Linked DNA regions of Homo sapiens. The protein of the gene in region 1 interacts with the protein of each later gene in a biochemical or structural test. Each region holds a gene or a part of one and is shown in the gene's direction. Other genes may lie near its edges.

Region 1 (7,027 bases):
TGGAACTTATATGGTAATGAATGTTTTTTTCTTTCAGGTATAAGAAGCTGCTGTCCCTCTTAACCTTTGCTTTGCAGTCCATTGATAATTCCCACTCAATGGTTGGCAAACTTTCCAGAAGGATCTACTTGAGTTCTGCAAGAATGGTTACTACAGTACCCCATGTGTTTTCAAAACTGTTAGAAATGCTGAGTGTTTCCAGTTCCACTCACTTCACCAGGATGCGTCGCCGTTTGATGGCTATTGCAGATGAGGTGGAAATTGCCGAAGCCATCCAGTTGGGCGTAGAAGACACTTTGGATGGTCAACAGGACAGCTTCTTGCAGGCATCTGTTCCCAACAACTATCTGGAAACCACAGAGAACAGTTCCCCTGAGTGCACAGTCCATTTAGAGAAAACTGGAAAAGGATTATGTGCTACAAAATTGAGTGCCAGTTCAGAGGACATTTCTGAGAGACTGGCCAGCATTTCAGTAGGACCTTCTAGTTCAACAACAACAACAACAACAACAACAGAGCAACCAAAGCCAATGGTTCAAACAAAAGGCAGACCCCACAGTCAGTGTTTGAACTCCTCTCCTTTATCTCATCATTCCCAATTAATGTTTCCAGCCTTGTCAACCCCTTCTTCTTCTACCCCATCTGTACCAGCTGGCACTGCAACAGATGTCTCTAAGCATAGACTTCAGGGATTCATTCCCTGCAGAATACCTTCTGCATCTCCTCAAACACAGCGCAAGTTTTCTCTACAATTCCACAGAAACTGTCCTGAAAACAAAGACTCAGATAAACTTTCCCCAGTCTTTACTCAGTCAAGACCCTTGCCCTCCAGTAACATACACAGGCCAAAGCCATCTAGACCTACCCCAGGTAATACAAGTAAACAGGGAGATCCCTCAAAAAATAGCATGACACTTGATCTGAACAGTAGTTCCAAATGTGATGACAGCTTTGGCTGTAGCAGCAATAGTAGTAATGCTGTTATACCCAGTGACGAGACAGTGTTCACCCCAGTAGAGGAGAAATGCAGATTAGATGTCAATACAGAGCTCAACTCCAGTATTGAGGACCTTCTTGAAGCATCTATGCCTTCAAGTGATACAACAGTAACTTTTAAGTCAGAAGTTGCTGTCCTGTCTCCTGAAAAGGCTGAAAATGATGATACCTACAAAGATGATGTGAATCATAATCAAAAGTGCAAAGAGAAGATGGAAGCTGAAGAAGAAGAAGCTTTAGCAATTGCCATGGCAATGTCAGCGTCTCAGGATGCCCTCCCCATAGTTCCTCAGCTGCAGGTTGAAAATGGAGAAGATATCATCATTATTCAACAGGATGTAAGTATAGATTCTTTAAGAGGTTAGAAAACTTCCTTGGGGCTGGGCACAGTGACTCATACCTGGAATTCCAGCACTTGGGGAGGCTGAGGCCGAAGGATTGCTTGAGCACAGGAGTTCGAAACTAGCCTGGTCAACAAAGCAAGACCCTGTCTCTACAAAAAATTTTAAAAATTAGCCAGGCATGATAGTGTACACCTGGGGTCCCAGCTACTCAGGAAGCTGAGGTGGGGAGGGTCACTTGAACCTGGGAGTTTGAGGCTACAGTGAGCTGTGATTACACCATTGTACTCTAGCCTGAATGACAGAGCAAGACACTGTCTCACAGAGAGCTTCCTTGGACCATACTAAAATAAACCTAATTCAGAAATGCTGCTTCTAACATTCAGAAGCAGAGTTTTCCACATAAAATTATTACTTATACAACAATAATGTTTGTACTGTTTAAACAGCAATAATTCTTGCCTATGGGCATTTCCGGTTAATTGTATAATGGTGATTACTTTTGCATTTGCTGTCGGTCACAAATACCTTCCATTCAGAGGTCACATTTATAGGTGGTTTGGGAAGCCAGACTGAATAAGAATAATATCTTGCAGACTAATTTCACAAAATCTTACTCCTTTAACAGTAAAAAGATTGCTTTCGTTTAATATGTAGACACCAGAGACTCTACCAGGACATACCAAAGCAAAACAACCGTATAGAGAAGACACTGAATGGCTGAAAGGTCAACAGATAGGCCTTGGAGCATTTTCTTCTTGTTATCAGGCTCAAGATGTGGGAACTGGAACTTTAATGGCTGTTAAACAGGTAAATATCTAGTGAGCATATAAATGAAATGACTCAAATCACAAAATGAAGCATGTTCAGTAAAAAGAATAAAGGATATGTCCACGTGTGTGTACTTTAGTTCTTTAAACTTTGAGAAACTTAGTTTCAAAGTAGATGTTTCTAAAGCACCAGAAACATCATGAATTCTGTTATTGTTAAAAGTTGAGGCCACGCGTGGTGGCTCACACCTGTAATCCCAGCACTTTGGGAGGCCAAGGTGGTTGGATCATTTGAGGCCAGGAGTTCAAGACCAGCCTGGCCAGCATGGTGAAACCCTACCTCTACTAAAAATACAAAAATCGGCCGGGCAGGGTGGTAGGCACCTGTAGTCCCAGCTACTCAGGAGGCTGAGACAGAAGAATTGCTTGAACTCAGGAGGTAGAGGTTGCAGTGAGCCGAGATCGCACCACTGTACTCCAGCCTGAGCAACAGAGCAAGACTGTCTCAAAAAAAAATAAATAAAAGTTGAAGTATGATTATTGTAAGACTACAATATCAAGATGGGCCTTACAAAGGTTTTTTTGGTTTTGCTTTTTGTAGGTAGTAGAGGTGGTTTTCAGGTACTTCTTTCAACAGTGTACTTGTGCGGTGCCATCTTGGGGTTTCAGTGGTTTACTTTTTATTATAACGAGCATACTTAATCAGGATAGGAAAATTATTAAACTTTCATTTTTAAATCATGTTGATTCTTCTCCCATATTTGGGCTTTTCTCATCTTTACTCTGAGACTATTGGAATATTGACTATATCCCAATATTTTTGTCATTTTTCTGATGTTTACTGCTGCTTAAGCTAGATTCTTAGTGTTTAAAAGAGTTTGACTTGGGTTTGTTTAAAGTACATTGCATCCATAAGCATAAATGCCATCTGTTGCTAATAAAGTGCTAGTTTGCATTTGTTCATTTTAGATCAGATTGCTAGTGAAAATATGCAAAACTTTGTGAACGTGTTTATTTGAAACAGGTGACTTATGTCAGAAACACATCTTCTGAGCAAGAAGAAGTAGTAGAAGCACTAAGAGAAGAGATAAGAATGATGAGCCATCTGAATCATCCAAACATCATTAGGATGTTGGGAGCCACGTGTGAGAAGAGCAATTACAATCTCTTCATTGAATGGATGGCAGGTATGTTAATGTTTTAAATTACAAAATAGTAGTACGTGGATTTAACTTTCTGCAATTTAGGAAAAACCAGTTTAATTAAAATTTATTTCTATCAAATAGTTTGGGTTTCTAAAAACAAATCACCCCAATATATTAGTATGAACCACAAATACTTCGTTTTGTATTTCATTTACTATAAATGAAATATTGACTACCTCTACCTTTTAAATTTTTCCAGTGTGTTTTTAAATGATTGTGTAGCATTGTTGTTTTTAATACTTGATATGTATAAGATATGTATATTTCCAGGTAGCCATGATAAATTGGACAGATGAGGAAGTGTTTTAACATAACAATATACAAACAAAATTAACATATAACTTGAAAACTTACTACAAGTAAACTAGCACTGAAGCATAAAGTTGAACCTTGTCATCTGCTGAAATAAATGAAGACTGAGTTTTATTTTGTATTATACAATGTATACAATAAAATTAATGACCTGATGTGATGAACAGATTGTTTGGTTTAACTTCTTAGATTTGTGTGTGTATTTAAGAGTGCATTTCTCTTTACCAGTCAGTTCTTAAGTATGTTATCTGTTGGTTGGTCTTAATAAAGATTTACACTACAGTAGATAGGTTGACTACTATAAACACTTTTAAAAGCGGCTAAATTTGAGACATGTTCCAGGTCAGAGCTAGTAAATGGTAGAATATGACGCCTAACTCTGGGTTTTCTGTTCCTCCTCCCATTCTTTCCACCTTTTACTACATAATATGTTAACATTGTTTACTTTAGTCATTAATAAAGTTGTTTTGTGTATTTTGAGAAGACAGAGAATTGAATTGTACATTTCAGAAATAGTTTAATCCGAAATTGTTAACTTTTACAGCTTTCTGAAATCTTGACTCTCCAATAAACTGGTTTCCCTGTGGGTTCTGTGAAAATGTCTCCTAATTAGTAGGTTTTTGAGATGATACAGGAATATGTTAGTTTTGAAATGTTTTTCTTCTGTTTCAGATGTGAATGTGAGTTCATGCAGTGAAAACTTTAGAAACCAAAGTGTAATAAATACTTTTAATTCTGTCTTAAGTTTATGATAATTATTTCTATTGTCTTATAGGGGGATCGGTGGCTCATTTGCTGAGTAAATATGGAGCCTTCAAAGAATCAGTAGTTATTAACTACACTGAACAGTTACTCCGTGGCCTTTCGTATCTCCATGAAAACCAAATCATTCACAGAGATGTCAAAGGTGAGAATTCTTCTAATTATTATCTAGTGACAATAAAAAAATTAATTTTAAAATTTGGGGCCAGGCACAGTGGCTCACACCTGTAATCCCAGTACTTTGGGAGGTGAAGGCAGGTGGATCACTTGAGGTCAGGAGCTCGAGACCAGCCAGGCCAACATGGTGAAACCCTGTCTCTACTAAAAATACAAAAATTAACAGGGTAAGGTGGCGCATGCCTGTAATCCTGGCTATTTGGGAGGCTGAGACAGGAGAATTGCTTGAACCCGGAAGGCAGAGGTTGAAGTGAGCTGAGATCACACCACTGCACTCTAGCCTGGGTGACAGAGTGAGACTCTGTCTCAAAGAAGAACAAAAAAATGGACCTTTGTTGATAGTTTCTAACAGTGGGATTTTTTTCTCTGAGTAATTCAGAATATTAGAACTGAAATGAGCCTTAGGGATCATTTAATCTGCCTTCCTCGTTTAATAGAAAAGTACATTGAATACAAGAGAGGCTGTGCCTTTTCTACAGTTTTATTGCTAGTTAATGGCAGAAAGTATACAACACAGGTCTCCAGATTCCCTGTCTTGGCCTCATGATACGCTGACTCCCAGAAAGTTCCTTTTCCTGGTTTTATTTTGAATAATTGGGATATTGGGATATCATCAACTTCTTTTAAGAAAAATTCCTTCAAATCCTTTGTAGGTCCCATTATTTTCCTTATCCTTTTCTTTTTTTTGGAGACAGGTTCTCTGTCACTCAGGCTGGAGTGTAGTGTTGCAAACTTGGCACACTGTAACTCATTTCCTGGGCTCAAGTGATCCTCCCACCTCAGCCTCCCAAGTAGCTAGGACAACAGGTGTGCACCACCATGCCTGGCTAATTTTTTATATTTTTTGTAGAGATGGGGTTTTGCCATGTTGCCCCCAGGCTGGTCTTGAACTCCTGGGCTCAAGCGACCCGCTTGCCTCAGCCTCCCACAGTGCTGAGATTACAGGCGTCAGCCACCGTACCTGGCCTCAGTTTATTTTTCTCAAGAGCAAATTTGGTTTTCTGTCATTAGTCTTTTTAGCTAGTATTTGACATAATGTGTTGAAGTAATTTTATAACTTTTTAAATTAAGCTCTAATTATGAATTTAGCGTACGCTAGAGAGAGCTGTGTGCCTTTAGCAAGAATGAAGTGAAAGGAAAAGAGAATAACTGTTTGCACCTCTGACATGTAGTTCACTTCTTTCTTTTGTCATTGTCCTAGTTCATTAGTATTGTACTGGGCTTTTATCTGTCCTTATTTTTGTTTTTAACATACAAGGTCATTTGCTGTGTTTGTTGACAGGTGCCAATTTGCTAATTGACAGCACTGGTCAGAGACTAAGAATTGCAGATTTTGGAGCTGCAGCCAGGTTGGCATCAAAAGGAACTGGTGCAGGAGAGTTTCAGGGACAATTACTGGGGACAATTGCATTTATGGCACCTGAGGTGAGAAGCATCTTTGAGTGTGATGACAGAAAATATTTTGGAATTCTGTGTAACAGCATTATACTAAATTATCTTGCAGTGGTATCCAGTATGTACTTACCAACTAGAAGTCCGTGGCCCTTAAAATACGGTTTTAATAATATCTTTCAGACCCTTATTCTCGACCTTTCTTTGCCTTGGCAATATTCAAAAAACAGGTTTTAATAGATTTACTTAACGGCTGTTACTAATAAAGAATTCTGGGGTAATTTATAGCAGTTGTTTTGTAATAAACTCAAAGTGCACATAAGAAATTTTTAAAAATATTCTCTCTCTATTCTAAAAGGAGATGAGCATACAGAGGCAGCTCCTGTCTGTAGTGGAAGGAGTTTAAGCATTGTTCTTCTGACTCAGCTTCTTCTGTCGTGTTCATAATTCTTCATGTTCATATGTAGTAATGATCTGTTGTCCTCTTGCCACATAGTTTGCTAAGAGCAAAATTCTGTGATGGGACTCTGCTTCAGAATCTCACAATTCTCCAAAATATTTTTGTGCTACCTGGAAAATTAAGCTCATTAATGAAATAAATTAGATATTAGGTAGTCCACAGAATTCCTGTTTGTACCAGTTTTCTCCCTAAAGTAAGGAAGTAGAATCTATAACTACAAAATGGCCTTCTCTTTTTCAAATGAGTCCTATTTCCAAATTAACTCTGATTTATTTTAGGTACTAAGAGGTCAACAGTATGGAAGGAGCTGTGATGTATGGAGTGTTGGCTGTGCTATTATAGAAATGGCTTGTGCAAAACCACCATGGAATGCAGAAAAACACTCCAATCATCTTGCTTTGATATTTAAGGTAATTGTGAGATAAAAATTACTTCTTTGTGCTAAAAGGAGTACAGCAGAATTTGGCAGGAGGCAAATTTTGATGGGTTCTCCCTAACAATCTAGCATGAAGGTAAATAAATAGTCTGTATATTTATTCAGAGAGGATTTGATATACAAGTTTTTTACTTTAAGATGGTGCAAAAGCAATACAAATTTGGTAAAAACCATAC
Region 2 (7,133 bases), on another chromosome or scaffold:
AGATTGCTGGGCTTCTTCCTCAAGGTTTCTCACTCAGCCGGTCTAAGGTGAGTATGAGAATTTGCATTTTCGACAAGTTCTCAGCTGATGCTGGTCTGGGGAACCACAATTTGAAAACCATCGTCTTAGAGGAATAAATGCTGACCTTTTTTTTTTCCCATGGAAATATGCATGTGTACTCAATCTATAAACTTGACTAGCTTAGTTGGTTCTCTCTTGCATGTACCTGTAAGCAAAAACAGGGTACCACTTGTAACTTCAAATCAGAGTTCTGCCCATTCTGTCTCCACTTCATTTTGTTCAAGTTGCGACTGAGGAGCTCGGGCCATTTTTGGCCCTTTCCTACCCCTGAGGAGCCACAGTTCTTGCAGCTGGAGGATGGATTTACAATACGAACACTCATCTTTCCTCTACTCATGCATCCAGGGTCTGTCTTGCTTTATCGGGAGCCAGCAGGCTCCACCTTGAAAGATTCTCAAAGAACATCCCTGAGTCAGGGACTGACTGACCAAGGTGCTGAACCTCTCCCTCCTGTTGGGGGAAAAGTAGACTTGACTGGAGACATGGGTGGGAGACGAGACTGGGAGGCTTGAAAGCAAGGCTAACAGAGAAGGATGGTGGTGGAGGTGGAGTCAGGGGAGAGGGAGTGTCCTTGGAGATGCCCTTCTGCAGGCTTTAGTTGGTAAGTACCTTCCCACCAACCCAACTCCCCACCCCTGGGGTGAGGTCAGGGAATTAGGAAGTAAGTTGAAGTCTCAGCTTTCAGTTTCTGCACCCTGAACAGCTTGGTGATATTCACCTGACTACCTTAGCCAAAGAAACATCTTCAGTGCAATCCATTGTGTGTGGTCTGGGATGACAAGGGAAGAGATACTCTGGTGGAGTGCAACCTCTTCTTGAACATCCCTCAGGGCTCCAGCAGAGGCTGAGTTTGAAAGGCCTACAGTTCCTCTTCTCTCCTTTCCCCATCCCAGCCTCAGAGGTATCCAAAGACCAGGTGTCCCCAAGACAGCTCCCCTGGGACAAGAGACAAGAAACCTGAATTCACTATATTTTCCTCTTTTTCTGAGTCAGCCCCTTAATAGGTTAACAAGGAACCCTAACAGGTTGACAAGAAAGAATTGCATGAAAAGGAAGAAGAAGGCCCAACACTGCATCTGGGTTACAGAAAAGCATTTTGAATTTGCAGAATATCAGAGATAATTACATTCCATCAGAAATAGCAAAATGCTTTCTGAAATCAATCATACACACACACAAACACACAAACGCACATATGTAAATATGTGGAATGTTCTTTCTAGTTGTAGATAATCAGAAGCTGACCATGGTAGACTGATACTAAGTCAGAAGCTCACTCTGTGGAGTGAGACAGAGGCGGTTATTAACAATAGCATCACAGAACTGGGCGTGAAACTCTGGAGCTCTGCTCCCAGCAACTCCCCTCACTTCACAACAGCTCTAAGGGTTGTATTGTTTTTTGTTACCTCCAGGCCTTTAATTTGTCTGGTGAAGAGTAGGTGGTACCTCTGTCTGTGCACTCAATCACACCCCGTTCTCTCTGGAAACACACGTCTTCCTTCTCTTTTGTGTGTATTCAACCTCTCCCTCTCAACAGTCTTCCCATCAGATGTAAAATATGCTTGTGTCCTACTTCACTGCCCGACTCATCCATATTCACCACCTTTATTTTCTCACCTCCCATTCATTTCCCAGCCCACTCTAATTCACTTCTGGTTCTATTACTCCAGGATTCCAAGCCTCCTCTTATGTTTAATATTATTGATCAGCCCTTTCTTCTTGAACACCTCTCTCCTGGTTATCCTTCTATCTCCCTGGCAGCTCATCACAGACTCATCTTCCCCTTTGTGGCCCTTTAACACTGAAGTTCCCCAAGCCTGGTTGCAGGCCCTCTCCTCAGGCCTAGGCTGACCCATCTATCCCAAGGCTTCAAGGAATCACTCACTGTCAATGATTCGTCTCTTAACTAGCTGAACCTCAGCTCTGTATATCCAACCACCAACTTAACATCAGTTTTGGGCATCTCAAAAGCCTTCAAACAGCCAAACAGCCTGCTCTCATGATATTTTAATGCCAGTCTGGTCCTTTTCCAAGATTCCCATCTTGGTAAACCAGCACTAACATCCATCCTTGGCCACAAGCCAGAAACCTTTGAGTTTTCCTTGATGACTCCCTCTCCTTCATTGCCCCACATAACCCATCACTTGGAGAATGTGCAAGTTCTGCCCGTTGGACCTCCTAAATAATTCACAGATCTTTCCATGTCCATCAACTATTTCCATGACCATCACCCTAGATCAAGCTTCCACCTCTTACCGTCTAGGCTACTCCTACATCCACCTGGGCTCTTTCCAATAAGGAATCTTTTCAAGAAGCTATTCTGACCATGCCACACCCTTTGCTGAATATGTCAGGGGCTTCCCATTGCACTTAGGATAAAAAGATTTTCAACATGGCCAATATGGATGTCCTACGTTTGGTCCCTTTACCAATCTTCCTGACTTCATCTCATAGCTCCTTCTTCCTTGCTCCTCCAGCAGAGCTGGCCTTTCCTGAATTTCTCCATCTTATCCTGCTTAATCTCATCAGAGGACCTTTGCGTGCAAAGCTACCTCTAAAATATTCTCTGTCTAGTCAAACCTATTCCCAGCTCAAGTGACAGTTCCTCAGGGAAATCTTTTCTGGCCTTATTAACTAGTGTATTAATTGGTTTCATAGTATTATGTATCCTTAACAATTTGTATTATAAAACAGTGATAATTTTGCGTTTACTATTATTACTTTCATAGTACAGTGATTAAATCTGTAAACTCTACTGTATTGCCTGGCACTGAATGGGCATGCAATAAATAATTATTGCAGGAACAAAGGATGGCAGGAAGGAAATTAAGAAGGTTGAGAGGGAGGGAGAGAGGAAATGGGAAGAGAATGAATGAATAATCATCTGTATGTTCCCTTTCAGAATCACCAGAAACAGGCCAGCCCCACATGTAATAGGAAAGTAGTTTACCTGAAATCATTCATTTATTCAACAAATATTTATATATTCATTATTAAAGTAACTTACTTGTTTCTGATTGTGAACATAACTATTCCTCTCGGAAAACATGAGAAAATACCCAAAGTATAAACGAGAACCAAGTCACCCTTTATTCCATAGTCCAATGATGAACCATTGTTAACATAATTTGGTGTATTTCTTTCCAGGTTTTTTCTATGTGTATATATAGTATCTAAGTGGGACCATTCTATATATGACTTGTTTCTTGCTTCTTTCTCTTAATGATACATTGTGAACATGTTCCTATGTTGTTAAGAATTCCTTGAACACATGGCATTTAAATTGCTAAAATGTATTCTACCGAATGGTGTAGGTAGTTCAAACGCCTTTCCACCCGTTGTTGGATATTTAAAGGACTTGTCAATTTATCGCTTCTGTAACATTTACACGCTTTGTGGGGCCTCAGAAGTAAACCAGGTAATGCAAGGAATCTGGGAAGAGGTGGATTTGCAAGGAATCTCGGAGGAGGTGGATTTTGGAAAAACTGGAGGCAGCTTTTCCCGGGCAGCTGAAGAGAACACTTATCTCTCTGTAGGTTTCTGGGACCCGGACAGGTGTCCTCAGAATGGAACATATTGTCGGTCAAGGTAACCAGCTCTTCATCACTCAGGTGTGTGTACCGGAAGGGGGTGCCTGTTCGCTGCGCAGGTTAGGCCTAAGCGCACCTGCCCTTCAACCCTGTGCCGACGAGGCCCGAAGGCTTAAGCTCTGACCTGGCTACCGCCGCCAACCAGATGCGGTCCCCTGGGGCCACGCGCCGCCACGTGCCGCCACAGGGCCCGCCCCTCCCGCTCCAGGCCACGCCCCTCACCCACAGCCCTCGGAGGCTCTCTCCGCGGCTCCGCCTCCAAGCGACCTCCGCAAGTCCTCTCGTAACCCCTGGAGTAGCGCCGTCCCCGGGCGGCGGCCCCGCCCCCGCAATCCGGGCCCCGGGGCTGCCCCGCCCCGCCGGCCGCTCGGGAGGCGCGGGGGCGGGGCCCTGCGCGATGACGTGCGCGGGCGTGCGCGGTGACGGCCCGCGTCTCTGTTACTCAGCCGAGCGGCCGAGGCCGGACGACGCGGCTTGGATTGCGGAGCCGCGAGCAGCGCTGGGTAACGGCCGCGGCGACCACCCCGGACGGCCCCTGTCCCCGCTGGCGGGCTTCCCTGTCGCCGTTCGCTGCGCTGCCGGGTGAGTGCGGCGGACGCCGCAGGGCCGGGACGGCAGGCGGCCCCGTCGTGTTTATGTTATTGTGCCGCTGCCGCCGCCGCCGCCTTCTCCTCAGCCGTAACCCCCTCCTGGGAGTGGGGGCGGGAGCGCGCGGTGGGCGGGGGCGGCGCGGGAACAATAGCGGCGCGGAGGCGGGGGCCAGCCGAGGGGGCGTGGGGCTGCGGGACCTGGGTGCGCTCCGCTGCCCGCCAGCCCGCCTGCCGCCGCGAGCCCCGCCCGCCTGTCCTCTCGCGTCCTCTTCGCGTGGGTCCTGCCTCCGCGGCGGGAGAAGAAAATGGAGCGGGGGGGTGGGTGGCAAGTTCTGAAACACTTCGGCAAGGGTCGGACGGAGGTGTCTTTGCGGCCCGCCGCGCCCTGGCTGCCTCCGGGGCGGCGGGGAGCCGGGGAGAGCGCTTCTGCCGGCAGGTCCCCAAGCCTGCCCCGCGCCCATAGGGACCGTATTTTGCTTCTCGATGCTTTCTTTGTGCTAACGTTCTGGGCGAACGCAGGCAGCAGCGCTGAAAAGGGCCAGAGTGGCCTGCAGCTCTGGGCTGCAGGGCAGAGAGCCCAGGCCCGTGGCTCGGGTGGGAGGTGTCCATCCAGCTTGGCCCGAGCTTCGGTGGTCAGCGCGCATTTCTCTTGAGGGTCATCGGTGGTGACCTTTTGACTTTTTCACCCCACCCTCCCATCTCTTTGTCTCGCATTTGTGTTCCCGATTCAGAGATGGTAGAACCAAGTCCATTTTAAAGTACCCTGATGAACACTTTCCGTTTTTATTTCTGAAAGTTCCCTGCTTGGTCTTTACTGCGAATTTAATAACATGTTGACTACATGGCATTGTCCAGTGATTACTATTTTTACCTCTGAAATCCAGCGATCTTTCCAGTAGAATTCTGGTCCGTCAGTCCATTGTGTTTTGAGATAAGCATCCAGCAAGTACCTCCTTGGCAATTAGAACATCTGTTTTTTCATTCATTCATTCATTCAGCAGCTGTTTAGTACCGTACTCAGATGAAGAGGTTTGGTGTGAAGGTAAAGTATCCTTTCATGGAAGAGGATGCTTTGACTGAAGTATAATAGATGGACCTTTAAATGAGACAGTTACATAAGTGATGTCTGTTAAGGAAGGTATGGTTATATTCTGGGTCATTTTTTAAGCAGTATATCTGGAAGTTCAAGTGTAATAGGAAGTAGAATTAGATTTGGTCTAAATATACAACAGCTTTTATTTATTTCTAAATTTTATTTTTTCCAGTCTTGCAGCCTTACAGTCATTTGTAATGGTTACCTCAGATTCCCCTGCTGTGGTTAACGTTAAACCTAGGAGGTCAGATGCTCTAAGTGAACATGTTTAGTGCTGTGCCTGACAAAAGCAAGCAATCAAAATGGGACTTCCTTGAGGGCAGGCCTGTCTTGCATCTGTTTCTCCACCACCTAGCCTGGAATATAGTAAGTGTTCAATAAAAGTCGGATTGATGAAAAGCTCTTTGTAATTGATAATATTTAAAATCAAGCCTTAAAAAAAACCGTAATGTTCTCCATAAAGTTTTGGAAGCTTCATGCAACTGTCGCATCAGATGGCTAAATGGTCAGTTCATGTACATTATCTGTTATGATGACATGGGCTTTTGAATCACGTGTAGGTCATTCACTGTCCTAAAATAAAATCTTGTCTAAATATTTTTTTAATATGATAAATAAAGTAGGTTGTGGAGTGTGTGTTTCTGTGTATGTGCTAGTTTATGTGTGTCCGTGTGTGTGCATGTACGTAATCCACACACAGGCACTCATAAACTGGTATTTCAGTAGGGGTCTAAAATGATTGCATTTATAATTTTGTGAATATTATTTGAAAGTTTTTTGGTGACTCTTATTGTGGAAAATTGAGGACAAAACCACATAAATGTTTTATTAGAAATATTTCTAATATTTTAGAAATGTTTACTTGAAATGTTTGGTTTTAAGTTCTAACTTGTATTAACACAATTGGTACAAAATATGAGCCTAAAACTCAAAATAATTGATTTATCGAAGTTAAAGCTCTTTTCCACTTACTAAATACAGTTTAGCGTTTGTTTTGTATTTGAAAGAATATGAAATGAGTTAACTAATGAGTTTCTTATTATTTGCTGTAAAGTGGAAATGAAGAAATAAGAAAATAATACTTTTTTAAGATGATGGTTGAAAATCTTTGAGATACCAAAGTTTTATTGCTTTACCTAGTTAGGGTATGTCAGATTCTAGTAGGGGTTACTGACAATCCTTTGGCAGTAGCTCACAGGCTGTGTAAAGAACCAGAGTTGTGTTACTTTGTTTTCCAAATTGTTGGTTTTTAAAAATAGCTTTATTGCAATTTAATTGACATAAAATTCACCAGTTAGAGTGTATATATTTCGGTTTTTAGTATTTTCACAGTGTTGTGCCTTGATCACCATCACTAATTCCAGAACATTGTCATCACCCCAAGAAGAAACACCATATCCATTAGCAGTCACTCTGAATTTCACTTCAAATTATCCTTTAAAGTAAGAGATATAGCATCGATTCTGTTAGTAAATATATTCCTTTAGTAAGTATGAAAAGGGCTCCTTTTAAATGTCCTGTCCTGGCAGAATAGGAAACTATATCCTTCATACTCCTTTAGATCCTGGGGGAAATGCCATTTGGAAAGGAAGTCAGTGCAAGAATAAATTGTATACAAATTAATGTGGTTATAATCTTAACTATTTGCTCCATGCCTGATATTATCAAAGTGACCTTGTGAGGATGAGATGTTCAGTGAAACAACTTGAAGGAATTTGTTGTTAAATGACTAGTCCCCAACTATCCTAGTGCTAAGAGGTTGTTGAATAGGAGCCTGCT
Region 3 (7,027 bases), on another chromosome or scaffold:
AGAATTGGCTAAATTACTAGTCACAGGCAAGAGATGTTAGGTTCATTATGTAGCTATGGAAGCAGAAGTACACTCATTGGTAGGATTTTTTTTCTTCATGTCATTTGAAATGCATACATTAGGATTGGAGTTTTTTGCTTTAGGCTTGGTTATATTAAAACTTTCTCTTGCTGTTTGGAGTCCAGGAAGCCCTGAATTACCTTCTTCATTTTAGTTATGCTAGAAGCTGGGGCACATATTAGTTGTCTTGATTAAGCTCTGAAAGGGGTTTGCTGAGGAGACAGGATCTTTTTTTTTCTAACATTATATATGAGAGAGAGTTCTGAAAAGACCTGTTATAAAATCAGTTTCAGGCACTTTTCCCTTGTATGCTGTTGTGTGTTTGAAGGTCAGTTTTAAAGCATTGGTGTAATAGTCTCATGGTTTATCTTTTTAAAAAGCATTGCCTCAAGAGAGCTGTGGATAAATATATTTAATTAGTAAAGCTAAAAAGTTTTGTTGTCTTAAGTTATTTCTTTGGTAGCAAATAAATCTTCACAAGAACCTAATTTTTTTTTTCTGTTGATTTTCTATTTTGGCAGGAACTTGATCTCAAAATAGCAATTAAGTCTTGTCGCCTAGAGCTAAGTACCAAAAACAGAGAACGATGGTGCCATGAAATCCAGATTATGAAGAAGTAAGTGTATTCCTTGACTTACATTTCCCTGGTTCTACAGCCCAACCAGATGTCATCATGGGGAAAGAGGCCAGGAATCCACTCTTCTCAGGATCTTTTTGGGAACATATATTTTTTTCTCTCATTAAATATATTCTATTTCAAATAATAATATCACATTAAGATTAAGAAGGTTTAGTTAAAATCAGCTAGGACACTTACACACTGTTGGTGGGAATGTAAAATTGTGCAACTGTTACGGAAAACAGTACGGTGATTCCTAAAAAATTAAAAATAGAATTACCATATGATCCAGCAATTCCATTTCTGGGTATATACAAAAATGAATTGAAAGCAGGGACTTAAAGAGTAATTTGTACACTCATATTCATAACATTATTATTCACAATAGCTGAAAGGTAAAAGCAACCCAGTATCTACCAGCAGAGACATGTATAAACAAAATGTGGTATATTCATGAAACGGAATATCATGCAGCCTTAAAAAGGAATGAAACTCTGACACATGCCACAGCATGGATGAATCTTGTGGACATTATGCTAAATGAAATAAGCCAGTCACAAAAAGACAAATACTGTGTCATTCCACTTATGTGTGGTACCTAGAGTAGTCAAACTCACAGTGAAAGAAAGTAGAATGGTGTTTGCCAGAGGGTGAAGGGACCAGCAAATAGAGAATAATTTTTAATAGGTGCGGAGTTTCAGCTTTGCAGAATTAAACAGTTTTGTGCAGTATAGTGATAGTAGCAAAACATTGTGAAAGTATTTGATGCCAGGCTGGGCATGTTGGCTCACACTGTAATTCCAACACTTTGAGAGGCTGAGGTGGGTGGATTGCTTGAGCTCAGGAGTTCGAGACCAGCCTGGGCAACATGGCAAAACCCCATCTCTACAAAAAATATAAAAACTAGCTATGTGTGGTGGTGCATGCCCGTAGTCCCAGTTACTTGGGAGGCTGAGGTGGGAAGATTGCTTGAGCCCAGGAGGTCAAGGCTACAGTGAGCTGAGATCATACCACTGTACTCCAGCCTGGGTGACAAGAGCAAGACCCTGTCTGAAAAAAAAGGAAAGCATCTTGATGCCACTAAACTGTACACTTAAAAATGGTTAAGGTGGTAAATTTTATGCTATGTGTGTTTTACCACAATCAAAAAACTATTTCATTTCAGTTAACAAAAGTCAGCTAGGGCCGGGCGTGGTGGCTCACACCTATAATCCCAGCACTTTGGGAGGCCAAGGCGGATGGATTACCTGAGGTCAGGAGTTTGAGACCAGCCCGGTCAACATGGCAAAACCCCATCTCTACTAAAAATACAAAAATTAGCCAGGTGTGGTGGCGGGTGCCTGTAATCCCAGCTACTTGGGAGGCCGAGGGAGGAGAATTGCTTGAACCCGGGAGGCGGAGGTTGCGGTAAGCTGAGATCATACCACTGCACTCCAGCCTGGGCGACTCCGTCTCTAAATAAATAAATAAATAATAAAAAATAAATTACCCCAACATTTAGTGGCTTAAAATAGCAAACATTTAGTATCTTATAGTTTCTGTGACTTAGGAATTTGGGAGTGGCTTAGCTGGGTGATTCTAGCTTAGAGTCTTTCCTGAGACATCTCAGGATATTGGTCGGAGCTGCAGTAATCCAAAGGCTTGACTGGGGCTGGAGTATCTGCTTCCATGCTCACTTATATGAATGTTGGCCAAAAGCATCAGTTCTTCGCCATGTGGGCCTCTTCATGGGGAAGCTTGAATGTTTTCATGACATGGAAGCTAGCTTTCCCCAGAAAGATCTTTTCCTCAGAAAGAGTGAGTGATCTGAGAGAGAGAGAGAGAGAGAGAGAGTGAACGAGCGAGCAAGATGAAAACCGACGTATCTTTTATGATCTTTACTTGGAAGTGAGACTCCATCCTTTTCCACCACATTCTGTTTGTTACAGTGAGTCACTAAGTACAGCCTACATTCAAGGGGAGGAGAGTTAAGCTCTTAAAAAGAGAAGTAGACATATTTTAAAACTTCCACAGGTAGTGTGCTAAGTACTTTACAGATCATTCTTCCAGTTATCACAGCAATCTTATATTTAGGTATTATTTTGCAAATGAGGAAGTTGAAGCTTATAGAATCACATAGCTGGTGGTTGGTAAAGTGTGGATTTGAAATAAATACTTTCTGACTCTAATATCTGTGCTTAATTCCATTTTGATTCTCAAACTTGGTTATGTGGCAGAATCACCAGGAAAGCTTAATAGTATAAATTATCAGGTCCTACATGTACATGGAAATTCTGTTTGCTTCTTTTTCTTTTTTTCTTTTTTTTTTTAAAAGAGATGTGGTCTTGCTATGTTACCCAGGCTTGACTTGAACTCCTGGGCTCAAGCAGTCCTCCCACCTCAGCCTCTGGAGTAGCTGGGACTATAGGCATGCGCCACCACACCCGGCTAATTTTTAATTTTTTGTAGAGATGAGGTCTCACTGTGTTACCCATGCTGATCTCGAACTCCTGGCCTCAAGCAATCCTCCCACCTCAGCCTCCCAAATTGTTGGGATTACAGTTACAACTACACCCAGCCTAGAACGCCAGATTTGACTTACTCACTGTGTGATCTTGTTACTTAGCCAATTTGTGCTTCAATTTTCTCCTGTGTGGTGAAAGTATTAATAAATCTACCTATAATAGGATTATTGTGACAAGTAACTGAGTTAATATATTTAAAATGTTTACTGCTTGGCACTTAGAAATGTAATAGTAGTAATAGTGATGGTATTTTTATGTGTGTTTTCTTTTAAAAAATTACTAATTTTTAATTATACAAATCAGAAATTAGAATATTATAAATAATACTGATCTTTCCCCCTCTGTTCATCCACCCACAATTAAGTAGCATTTCAAATCCAGTCCCTTTTTATTGGAAATAATTTTTTTTATTGTAATGTTTTTCTTTCTTATTAGGTTGAACCATGCCAATGTTGTAAAGGCCTGTGATGTTCCTGAAGAATTGAATATTTTGATTCATGATGTGCCTCTTCTAGCAATGGAATACTGTTCTGGAGGAGATCTCCGAAAGGTAGTGTGGATGTTTTGAGATGAGAGAGAGTAAATCACAAACTTTAGCAATGTTTGAATCATGTTAAATATAATAAACTAGAATAAGAATCGGAAAAACTATGGTCTGCTTCCTGTTTTGTAAATAAAGTTTTATTGGAACACAGCCACATTCATTTCTTTACACATTGTCTATGGCTGCTTTCTTATGGCTGCAGAAGTGAGTAGTTTTAACAGAGACTATGTGACTTGCAAAACCTAAAGTATTTACCATATGGTTCCTTACAGAAAATGTTGACTCCTGATTTAGAAAATGCATTTTTGTTGTTGCTGTTTGATGGGACTATAGCAATGGTGTTAGATGAAAATTTCAGTGGTTAAGGTGCTTATAAAAAGTTGTTTTCTGTATTGCAATCTTTTTTTTCTACCTAATTTTAAATGTGCCCATATGACCATTTTTATATATATCCATGAGATTTGTCAGCCTTTTCCAGTTTCAAATGCTTTTTGCCTCTTTTTACTTTTATGAGCCTTATCATGAAATTTACATGCCCTCAGTATGGATTTGGTAATTTTATTCCCTTGTATTTTATTATGACTTATTTTCTCATTTGAATATTCTTTTAGAGTATAGTAATTAATGTGTGGTCACTATTGCAGCCCAGCAATTTGCAGAACAGATTTTTAGATTTCTTTCTTTTTTTAGCTGCTCAACAAACCAGAAAATTGTTGTGGACTTAAAGAAAGCCAGATACTTTCTTTACTAAGTGATATAGGTACGTATCAGTATTAAAATACCATTGTAATGTAATGTCCCTTTGGCCCATAAAAGATCTTTTTGGGAATTCAGGAGAATTGTTGATACACTATACAAAGTCTATAGAATTTCAACATCTATAAGAAGTTATAAAAATCTATTACTATTGATGCTAAATTAAAACTAGGATATTTTGGCTAGGTGCGGTGGCTCACGCCTGTAATCCCAGCACTTTGGGAGGCCAAGGTAGGCGGATCACAAGGTCAGGAGTTCAAGACCAGCCTGGCCAACATAGTGAAACCCCATCTCTACTAAAAATACAAAAATTAGCTGGGCACAATGCCGCATGCCTGTAGTCCCAGCTACTCGGGAGGCTGAGGCAGGAGAATCGCTTGAACCCAGGAGATAGAGGTTGCAGTGAGCCGAGATTGCACCACTGCACTCCAGCTTGGACAACAGAGTGAGACTTTGTCACACACACACAAAAAGAAACTAGGATATTTTATTATTTATTTGTGGCTAAGAGTCCTTTTTTTGTCTAATAGATGTTCCAATAGCTGACAAAAAAATCATGTGAAATGACCTTACTCAATTTCTCTCCCCCCCTACCATTGACATAGTAATTTTGTTTACAGTGGAATTACATCTCCTTGAGGGATGGGTCCTCAAGTCAACTCTTTTTTGTTTGTTTGTTTTGAGACGGAGTCTAGCTCTGTTGCCCAGGCTGGAGTGCAGTGGTGCGATCTCAGCTTACTGTAACCTCTGCCTCCCAGGTTCAAGCGATTCTCCTGCCTCAGCCTCCCGAGTAGCTGGGATTACAGGTGCCCGCCATCACACCTGGCTAATTTTTGTATTTTTAACAGAGACGGGGTTTCACTGTGTTGGCCAGGCTGGTCTCAAACTCCTGACCTCGTGATCTGCCCGCCTCGGCCTCCCAAAGTGCTGGGATTACAAGCGTGAGCCACCGCACCCAGCCAAGTCAACTCTTCAGGGTGAAAAATCTCTGCTTAATCAGAATGACTCCAGAAAAATTCCTAAAATAACCAGTACCTAACCTTTTGGAGGAACCTCAAAAACCAAAAATTTGTTTCCCCATAGATTTTGGTTTTGCCTCTTTTCCAAGGTCATGAGGGCTAAAGTCCAATTGAAATGAGTGATTTAGGTGGGAGAAAGAGGCTTATAAGAGTTTCAGGGATTTTCCCAATTGCTTGTTGCATTTCTATTTGGTGTTAATTCTAATGAGTTAAATGAACATATAGTATAATTTTGTAGTATTTGTTTAATGTTACTTTTTTTTCTGTGAAGAAAACCTGGACACTGTAGTATTAGTTGTGTAGTTACGATGATCCATATAAACTTGAGCATCAGAGTAGATTTGTACAAAATGTGAGGTGAATTTTTCTTTTAACTCAATGATTTCTGTTACTTTAAAGTATATTTTAAACTTTATTTAGGGTCTGGGATTCGATATTTGCATGAAAACAAAATTATACATCGAGATCTAAAACCTGAAAACATAGTTCTTCAGGATGTTGGTGGAAAGGTAGGTGAAACCTGAAGTAATGTTTCATGCCTATTGAATATAGTCTCTCTGATATAGTTAGTCCTTGAGCTTTGGTGTCTTTGCTGTATGCCCATAACAGTCTTACTTTTTCCATTTCAGACCTCACCACACTGAACTGTAGTTTTGTGTTTAGTTTTTTTGTCCCTTCTGCTAAACAGTGGTTCCATCAGAGAAGGAACAGCACCTGCTTTTTTTTTCTTTTTCTTTTTTTTCATTTTTCATACTTAACCCAGCTCCTAGACTTCACCTGTCTTGTTCAAGTCTGTTTTTCCATCATAGTATCTAGCAAAGATACAGGCTGTGAATACATAATATGTTAACACTTATTATTTTATTCTTATGAAGCACATCCAAAACACATACATGCACATCCTGGGTCCACTTTAAGAAAAAAAAGAAAGTATATATATTTTTAAAACTTATTTTCCTTCCCCCAATTTAAATGAGTCATCTGGAGAAGAACCAGAAATTGTGAATTGACTCTTAAAATGTTCATTTCATTGGTAACTTAAGCAGTTTTCTTGTTTCCAGCATCCAAATTTCATTCCAATAAAGACTTAAAGGCCAAGAGTCTGAACCTTGTGTTGAGTTGTGTGTGCCGTCTCTTTAGTTAGTGAAAATAGTTGTTGGCCTCTTGGAGGTGTTGGAACCTTGGTGATGCCTCTTCTCTTAGGAACCTTTCACGTATGCTTGGCACCAAATATCTCTGCTTTTTTTTTTTTTAATCCAAAGACTTCAGGACATTCCTGAAGTTAGATCTAAGTATTTACTCACATTTAATCTACTATAAGGAGGTATGATGCTTCTTCAAGTTTGGAAGTCACCCTTGCCTTTACTTTCCAGTTTAATGGATTGAGCTTATTTTGAATATAGTAAAATAAAAATTAATAGCCCACCTGTATTCAATTTTTACCATGTACCAAGCACTGTGTTACCTTCTTTACTTTCGTTATTTCATTGGATCCTAATAACAATTCTGTGAAGCAGGGACTGTT

What was found.
Region 2: of the proteins of MAP3K1 (region 1) and MAPK8, one has a biochemical effect on the other in vitro, tested with the Homo sapiens proteins (3 studies listed by BioGRID, with this or other methods).
Region 3: of the proteins of MAP3K1 (region 1) and CHUK, one has a biochemical effect on the other in vitro, tested with the Homo sapiens proteins (3 studies listed by BioGRID).

The regions. Positions count from the first base shown.
Region 1 is NC_000005.10:56,881,533-56,888,559, forward strand, and holds part of MAP3K1 (mitogen-activated protein kinase kinase kinase 1), read left to right. Parts: intron 1-37; coding exon 38-1,334; intron 1,335-1,994; coding exon 1,995-2,147; intron 2,148-3,131; coding exon 3,132-3,294; intron 3,295-4,399; coding exon 4,400-4,531; intron 4,532-5,845; coding exon 5,846-5,988; intron 5,989-6,693; coding exon 6,694-6,825; intron 6,826-7,027. UniProt on the Homo sapiens protein: Component of a protein kinase signal transduction cascade. Activates the ERK and JNK kinase pathways by phosphorylation of MAP2K1 and MAP2K4. May phosphorylate the MAPK8/JNK1 kinase.
Region 2 is NC_000010.11:48,302,569-48,309,701, forward strand, and holds the start of MAPK8 (mitogen-activated protein kinase 8), read left to right. Parts: upstream 1-4,108; 5' UTR 4,109-4,253; intron 4,254-4,660; exon of another isoform or gene 4,661-5,720; intron 5,721-7,133. UniProt on the Homo sapiens protein: Serine/threonine-protein kinase involved in various processes such as cell proliferation, differentiation, migration, transformation and programmed cell death.
Region 3 is NC_000010.11:100,219,572-100,226,598, reverse strand, and holds part of CHUK (inhibitor of nuclear factor kappa-B kinase subunit alpha), read left to right. Parts: intron 1-581; coding exon 582-676; intron 677-3,618; coding exon 3,619-3,733; intron 3,734-4,417; coding exon 4,418-4,487; intron 4,488-5,922; coding exon 5,923-6,011; intron 6,012-7,027.